2 separate regions of the Homo sapiens genome follow, and region 2 is linked to region 1. A link means that fine-mapping ties the variant in region 1 to the expression of a gene that starts in the linked region. Tissue or cell type: whole blood. Region 1 holds a variant in brackets; the other region holds the start of a gene. All regions are shown on one strand. Distances are from middle to middle.

Evidence for each region. PIP is the estimated chance that this variant, and not a neighbour inherited with it, causes the effect.
Region 2: it holds the start of TNIK, and the variant in region 1 is fine-mapped to the expression of TNIK in whole blood (INTERVAL, PIP 0.96).

What each region holds. Positions count from the first base shown.
Region 1 is chr3:171,538,523-171,542,764 of GRCh38, reverse strand. No RefSeq gene overlaps it. Among named protein-coding and RNA genes, the nearest start is that of TNIK, 80 kb to the right of the region's middle. The variant G/A (reference allele first, on the strand shown) is at 1,693.
Region 2 is chr3:171,458,237-171,462,478 of GRCh38, reverse strand. It overlaps TNIK (TRAF2 and NCK interacting kinase), which reads left to right and starts at 2,074. Exons shown (of 33, transcript NM_015028.4): 1 at 2,074-2,472. The coding sequence starts at 2,416. It overlaps LOC102724479 (a long non-coding RNA gene), which reads right to left and starts at 3,261. Exons shown (of 3, transcript NR_189068.1): 1 at 3,088-3,261. RefSeq lists an enhancer at 873-1,373 and a silencer at 2,385-2,444.

The DNA.
Region 1 (4,242 bases):
TGCCTATCAGAACAAGGTCCACACTTATTAAAAGAATTCAACAAAATCTGGCACCCATAAACAACAACAACAAAAAACAAACAAAATTATATCTACAATGGCTGTCACCTAGTAAAAAGTTACCAGGCAAGAAGAAGAGAAAAATATGACCCATAGTCAGGCTAATAATCAATCAATATGAACAAAATTAGAGATGACAGAGATTATGGAATTAGAAAAGACCTGAACCAGTTATTAGAGGTATGTGCCATGTGCTTGAAAATGTAAAGCAAAACATGAATATAACAACAAGAGAAATGGAAGATATTTTTTAACAGACTCAAGTGGAACATCTAGATATGAAAATATATTCTAAATAAAAAATACACTGAATAAAAGTAACAGCAGACTAATACTATAAAATAAAAAATTAGTGAACATAAAGACCCAACAACAAAAATTACCCAAAATGAAGCACAGGGAGAAAAAAATATTTTTAAAAAATTAATAGGCTGGGCTCTGTAACTCATGCCTGTAATGTCAGTGCTTTGGGAGGCCAAGGCAGGAGGATTGCTTCAGTCCAGTAGCTTGAGACCAGCCTGGGAACATAGTAAGACTCTATATCTACAAAAAATGAAAAAATTAGCTGGGCATGGTGGCATGCACCTATAATCCCAGCTACTGGGGAGGCTAAAGTGGGAGGATTGCTTGAGTCCGAAAGTTACAGGCTGCAGTGACCTATGACCACACCAGTCCAGCCTGGGCAACAGAATGAGACTCTGAAGAAAGAAAGAAAAAGAAAGAGAGAAAGAGGGAAGGAAGGAAGGAAGGAAGGAAGGGAAGGAGGAAGGGAGGAAGGTAGGAAGGAAGGGAGTGAGGGCTCCATGACATTTGGGGAAATATCAAGTTGTCTAAAATATAGTAAATGCAGTTCTAAGAGTAGAGGAGAGAAGGAAAACAAATATTTGAAGAACTAATAAATAATAGTTGAAATTTCCAAAATTTATGAAAAGTGGTAAATGTATAGACCTTAGAATCTCAACAAAACTCAAATGGAATAAACATAAAGAAAAATACATAAAAGCACATTATAGTTAACTTGGTGAAAAACAGTAATAAAAAGCAGCCAGAGAAAAGAAACCCCTTTACGTGTCAAGAAACAAGGTAGCATTAGAGCGTATTTCTTGTAAGAAACTATGCAAGCCAGGAGACAATGAAGTGACATCTTAAAGGACTGAAAGAAAAAACAACGGTCAATGTAGAATTATATTCCCACCAAAAATATCTTTCACAACAAAGACAAAATAAAGACTTTTTCATACAAACAAAAGTCAGTAGACCTCCACTGCAAGACATGCTAAAGGAAATTCTTCAGGCAGAAGGAAACTGATGTCAGTGGAGAATTTGGATCTAACAAAGGAGTAAAAAACAGGAAATGGAAAATATGAGGATATACATAAAAACCTTTTTTTCTCATTCTTTAATTGTAGGAGTTTTAGCACATGCAGCGATAAAGCCAATGACAATAATACTACCAAGGACTAAAGAGGAGATAAATGAAAGAATCTCATACCATATGCAGAGTTGAAGGTAGACTATGATAAGCTAAAGATAAATTCTAGAAGCCAGCACAGTGGCTCATGCCTGTAATCCCAGCAATCTGGGAGGCCAAGGCAGATGGATCATCTGAGGTCAGGAGTTTGAGACGAGCCT[G/A]GCCAACATGGCGAAACCCCGTCTCTACTAAAAGTACAAAAATTAGCTGGGCGTGGTGGCAGGTGCCTGTAATCCCAGCTACTCAGGAGACTAAGGCAGGAGAATTGCTTGAACCTGGGAGGCGGAGGTTGCAGTGAGCTGAGATCACACGACTGCACTCCAGCCTGGGCAACAAGAACAATACTCTGTCTAAAAAAAAATTCTAGAGCAGTCACTAAAAATAAGCAATAACAACAACAAAACTAAAGAAGCACAGCTAATAAACCAATGGTGGAGATAAAATGAGATCATAAAAAAATAAAGTTAGAAAAGGGGGTAAAAGAGGAAGAAAGAAACAAAGAACAGATAAGACAAATAGAAAACAAACAGCAGCATGACATTTTAAAACCATATCAATTATTACATCAAACATAAATCGTCTAAACACTCCAATTAAAAGGGAAATTATCAGTGTGGATTAAAAGACAAGACAAATTATATATTATCTGTAAAGAACCCACTTTAAGTAAAACAACACAGCTAGATTGAAAGAAATGGATGATAAAAAATGACTATGTAAACATTAACAAAAAGAAAACTATAGTGACTATATTAATATCAAGCAAAGTCAGCTTTAGAACAAGGACTATTACTGGAGATGAAAAGGAACATTACATAATTATAAAGAAGTCAATTAATTAAGACATCACAATAATCCTTAACATGTATTCATCCAGTAACAAAGTTCCAAAATACATGAAGCAAAAACTGATAAAATTTAAAAAATAGACAAACTCACAATTATATTTGGATATTTTAATACTCTTCTATTGGGAATTGATAGAACAAGTTGGCAAAAATCAGCAAGCACATAAATGACTTGAACAACACTATCAACAAACATGACCTAGTTGATGTTTACAGAATGCTTATACCCAACAACAGCAGAACCCGTCACAATTATAGCTCATATTCTGGGCCAAAAAAAAAAAAAAAAAAAAAAGTGGAAGTCTCAATGGGCTAAATAAATAAAAAAGAATTCAAATAATACAGAGTATGTTTTCTGACCACAGTGGAATTATTCTAGAAATCAAATAGCAAGCCATCTGGAAAATCCTTAAATACATGAAAATAAATAACACACTTCTAAATAACCCATAGCTCAAATAAGAAATAACAAAAAGAAATTAGAAAATATTTTCATAGGATAAAATTAAAAATACGACACATCAAAATCTGTGGGATGCAGCAATAGTGCTTAGAGAGAAATTTATAGCATTAATTACTTATATTAGAAGAAAATAAAAGTCTTAAGTCCATAGTCTAAGTGTCCATCTTTTTCTTTGAAAAGATAAATACAATTATGAACTCCTAGCCAGACTGATCAAGAAGAGAGAAGAAATTAAATAACAATATCAGGAATAAAAGAGGGGTCATCACTCTAGATCTTATGGTCATTAAAAGGTAATAAAGGAATATTGTAAATAAATTTCTGACAACAAATTTCATAACCTAGAAGACATGGAGAAATTTCTTCAAAGACACAAATTGCCAAAGCTTAGTAAAGGAGAAAGAAATAACCTGACTAAATTTAACTCCCAAACTAATTTTCTGTAACCAGCTTTACCCTGATACCAAAACCAGGCAAAGCCATTACATTAAAAGAAAACTACAGGCCAATCTCTCTCATGAATATAAATGCAAAATTACCAAAATTTGATCAAACTGAATCTAACAATTTATGAAAATAATACATCAAGACTAATGACAATTATTCTAGCATTATTTACAATAGCAAACTTTAAAATGATCCATCTATCAACAGGAGAATAGCTAAATAAATTAAAGATATTAGTATAGCCAGTAAATATGACATATAGAAAAAAATGACATTAGGAAATGCTAACAATATAACTAGAAAAAGTAAATATGCTATGCTCTCAACACGTAATACAGTGAACATAGGGGAGAAATATACCAGATGTTACAAAGCCTTGTAGTAGGCCCTGGAGGTGCCCTGCCCAGTTGCCTCTTACCCCAACTGCTGAGAATGTTGGCTAATGGCTTCGTAAGAATTCCCTTTGTCGGCTGGACGCGGTGGCTCACGCCTGTAATCCCAGCACTTTGGGAGGCCAAGGCGGGTGGATCACGAGGTCAGGAGATCAAGACCATCCTGGCTAACACGGTGAAACCCCGTCTCTACTAAAAATACAAAAAATTAACCGGGCATGGTGGCGGGCACCTGTAGTCCCAGCTACTCAGGAGGCTGAGGCAGGAGAATTGCTTGAACCCGGAAGGCAGAGGTTGCAGTGAGCCAAGATTGCACCACTGCACTCCAGCCTGGGCGACAGAGCGAGACTCTGTCTTAAAAAAAAAAAAAAAAAAAAAAAGAATTCCCTTTGTCCACAGGAGGCAGTATGCAAACTGATATAAATGCTCAGCCCTCTTGACTCAAACGAACTCTGTGGTGCCACTCACATCCTAGAGCTCCCTGTGGGATCAGGCCAAGGCAGGATTTCAGCTGAAACTGCTTTAGGATTCTTTCCCTGCTGTAACCTACTTTCCTCACTC
Region 2 (4,242 bases), 80 kb after region 1:
GTTGGAGGTCCCTTTGATACTGCAATCTCTCCTTTTATGGTATTTCCTGCAGCCCACACCCCTGCCTTCCCCTGGCTGTCTCATCAACTTCTCAGGCTCTTAGGAAGCCCTCCTCCATTTAGCACCTGGCATCATACTGCATCTATAACTTTCTCATCTAAAACTAAACTAAATCTGAATGCCAACTTGGCACCCTCGTGGCCCAAACAGCTCACTAATGTCAAAAAAGTTGATCTGTTTGTGATGTTTCAAATATAATCATGAGTATAAAACGAAGGCTTTCCATGGAAAAAATATTTAACTCATATTTCCTTATGTTTGCAGTTTTAAAAAAATAGTTGTTTATAGATCTTAATACTTGATCTTAAATTATCTTCTTTCAACCCTGAGACAATACATTAACCTGTTGTCTAGATGAACGGTAAAAAAACAGGAACACAGAAGAGAAAAAAACAAAGACAATGATGGGAAATAATCTGTTTTTTTTTTTTCATTTCGACGTGGTGGCTTACTGCACGTTACTTACTATGTCGAACCAGATGATTTTAGTAAAAAATGAGTTTAGTAATTTAGTATAACACGTTCAAATGTTTACATACAACGTTTACAGGCAAAAGCTACCAAACTGTTGTGGCCATTGAGATGTTGGAACAATTTTCAAGTTTCATGGTGCATGATCCACAATGCATATGAATACATACAATATCAGTAACAAAAACAGTACAATGTACACCAAAGGTTGTTTCAAAGTCCTCTAATGTCTGCAGTCATGATGAACTAACTGCACTGGCTTTCATTCATTCATTCATAAGACTTATTTTGAAGCTGATCTTCATACTGCATGATTAAGAAACCATCAGTGCAGTGGTCAGAATTACATTCTGCTGTTAACAGAGGAGCAAAGAATGCTTTCAAAGCTACTGCTGTATTTGGAAAAAAGTTCAGTTTTAGTGTTTTCTTTCTAGGTATTTTGCATGGCTAAGGCGGGAGAAGAAGGGCTGCGCGGGGATTGGGGGAAGCGACTTCCCACTCTTGATTACAGAAGGAGAATCATGTATACCACTGTAAAACATCCAACCTTTAAATGAGAAAGTGAGTGAAGTGAAATCGCTCTCACGTACACATCTTCCGCGTTACTTCTTATCCGCCAGCCAAACTTTCTCCATCAATCTGGGTAGGTCTGCCACGAAAACGCAGCCTGAAAGAAATGCTGAGTCCTGAGGCGGCGTGTGTTGCCTCACCCAGTGTTGGCTTTGGAGTTACCTGAAGCCTTCTAGCTACTGCACCCAGAGAGCAAGCTTCTCGTTTCAACTCGGTTGTTTCCGTGGGGAATTGCGGCACGAGCAAGTCCTGGGTGTGGCGATGCCAAGAGAGCGCTCAGATCTCCCATCTTTCCCGCTTCTGGCAAACCTTCCCAGCCCCGAATCGGCGAGTGACCAGCACCCGGGATCAGCCGTCCGGCATTCCGGGGACCGCGGGTGGACCCGACCCCGCCGCAGCTGCAAACTGCCGAAGCGCCCAGCTGGGTGCACTGTGCGTGTGCGCTTCTTCCCTACTCTTTCCGCGCCTGGAGGCGGATCCCCTTCCTTGCACACAAGTCCTTATATGCACCGGTTGCACCAGCCCGCGTTACTCCGGCCCCACAAATAATTAATGGGGGAGGGAGGGTGTCGCTTTTTTTTCCTCCGGCTTTTTCTCAGCGCGAGAGCATTTGAACCGAGGAGAAACCCCAAGACGCGACTGAAGGGCCATTTTGCTGCAGTGCACGAATTGGCCACACAAAAATAGAGCTTGGGTCCCTATGATAACAAGTCAAGGTTCAGGAACAGCCCCTTCGGGTTCGGCCCGAGGAGCCCGCAAAAGCCTGGGCGGAAAGGGTGCGCGCCCCTCCCCCCTCCACGCTGGTGCAGAGGGACCGGGTCAGGAAGCGCGGCCTCTCCCCAGTCCAAGACCACGCCTCCTCCGCCTCCCCACTCCCCCTTCACTCCTCCCAGGAAGCGGTGATAGACAGTTCTGCGTGGTTCTCCACCCCCACCCTCCCCCTGCTGAGTGGAGGAGTTGATGTGTCTCATTATAACAGCCAATGCAGCCGCCATCCACGCACAAGCAAAGAAGCATGTCCCATTTAAATACACCCACGCAGCCCCAGCGCCCTTAGCCGATCGGGGCGCTCAGCCCACACGCACCGCTGCTCGGGGCTTGGAGATCCGCGCAGGCTGGGCTCCCGGACCCGGCGGACCGACGCGCGGAGGATCGGGATCCGGCGCTGTGGGGCTGGGGTGGGCGGGGGAGGCTGGGCCCGGGGCCTCTGGCGCGACACCCGCATGAGGACGCGAGTGAAATAGACCAAGGTGGAATTTCCAAGGGAAAAGCTTCGGGGTGGTTTTGGTCCATTTCTCCAGCGAAGAAGTAGACATGGCGAGCGACTCCCCGGCTCGAAGCCTGGATGAAATAGATCTCTCGGCTCTGAGGGTGAGCAGGACGTTTTCTGGTTTCTTTCCAGTGGTTTGGGTTAGGGTGAATGGGCTCGGTGCGTGGACTGGGGGCTGGGGCTGGGGCAGGGGGACAGCAGCGGGAGAATGCGTCGGGGAGGGAACCTGGATTCCCGTTTTGATTCGGGGTTGCTGAGGTGCTCCTGGCTGAGCCCCTACGGCAGGGGCTGTGCGGTACGTGTCTTCCTCTGGCCGTGGCTTAGGCTCTCCCGAGGGCTCGTAGAGCTTATGCCAGTTTCATCTTATACCGGTGTAAGAGCATTAAAATGAAAGGCGTGTGTGCGTGTGTGTGTGTGTGTGTGTGTGTGTGTACACGCCCCGGGCAGTTGTCTGGTGCCAAGGCGCGAGACCCGACTGTCCCTTCTGCAAAAAGAATGCCAGCGTGAATAAAGGCACTGGCCCCTCACGTTTTCCAGCTACCTGCAAGATGACATTGTGAGGCTGGCTGTCCCCGCGAAGCCGAACCTGCCGCTCCAAGGGGGCAGTTATTGCTATGCTGGTCTTGTAGATGGCAACTGCCTCCCCCTCCCCCTTTTCTACCTCCCGCGCCCGGGCGCCCTCTCAGCGCTCCCTTAAATGCCAGTCTGCCACTCACCTTTATTTATGGCTTTAACTCAGCCCTGCCTGTTCTTTCTGACTTTGTGGCTGTAACGTTTCAGTTTTATGGCTGAACTTAAGCAGGTGAAAGGGATGTGTTTTCTGCTTTTCCTCAATCAGACCGGAACTCCCTGGAGTGTGTGCGAGTGTGTGTGTGTGTGTGTCTGTGTGTGTTTTCCCCGTGTCTGTGGCCAGTCCTTTGTAGAGCACCTCCCTCCCCCCAGCCCCACTGGTTTGCGTTTACCTTCACGTGAATTACCTCAGACGCCGTTTCATTGTATTGACTAAGACATCACTGATATAGAATCCATTTTGCTGTTGTTTTGAGATCAGAATACCAGGAATCCAAGTGCTGCTTCGACGCTTCCCCACCCCCAACTCCCGATCCCAACACACTCCTTTGGGGAAGGGGGCAGAGCTTTCTTGCCATTTTAATTAGATGCTGCCTGCCTGGAAGGGGGTGAGGGGTGGGGATGGTGGCAGCAGCGGGTGTCTGAGAAGGATTGGACACCAATTTAAGGACTGCTTCTTCCTCTCCCGAACCAAAAATAAAATTAAAAAGAAAGCGAGTGCATATACTTGATGTATGGAGGGTGGATGAGAAGGAATTCATGGTGGCTCTCTACAGGGAGACACCAGGATGGATGAAGCATGGAAGTTCACACGCCCTCCTGAGGAATACATTGTTAGATTGATGCTGAATCTTGGGGCCATTTACCTGGATTCCTAGTACTTCTGACATTGCCGCTATCTGCACTGATATATTAAAGTGCTACCTTTGTGATCAAAGTGGTACTTTCTCTTTGGTCTCCTTAATTAAACCTTTTCCTCCACATCTCTTTGAATAAGTCTTTCTCTCTTCGTCTTAATCTGTTGGGCTAAGAGATGAGGTTTCAGCAAGGCAAGTAAGGAGTTGAGAAGAAACAGAGATGCCGTTTGAAATGGGCTGTTCTGATAGTTGGGCAGCCAAAGCTCATTCATGCATTATTACAGGAAGCTGTCTATTTCCCTGGAGTGGAAATGCCACATCAAGAACCGGCTGCCCCCTGCGCAGCGGGGTGGGGTTGGTAACAGGGTGGGTGCATTGGCCAGGTCTGTGGCTTCCTGCTTTACCGACTGTGTGTGTTCATTTGCCCTACTTTCTACGCTGGGA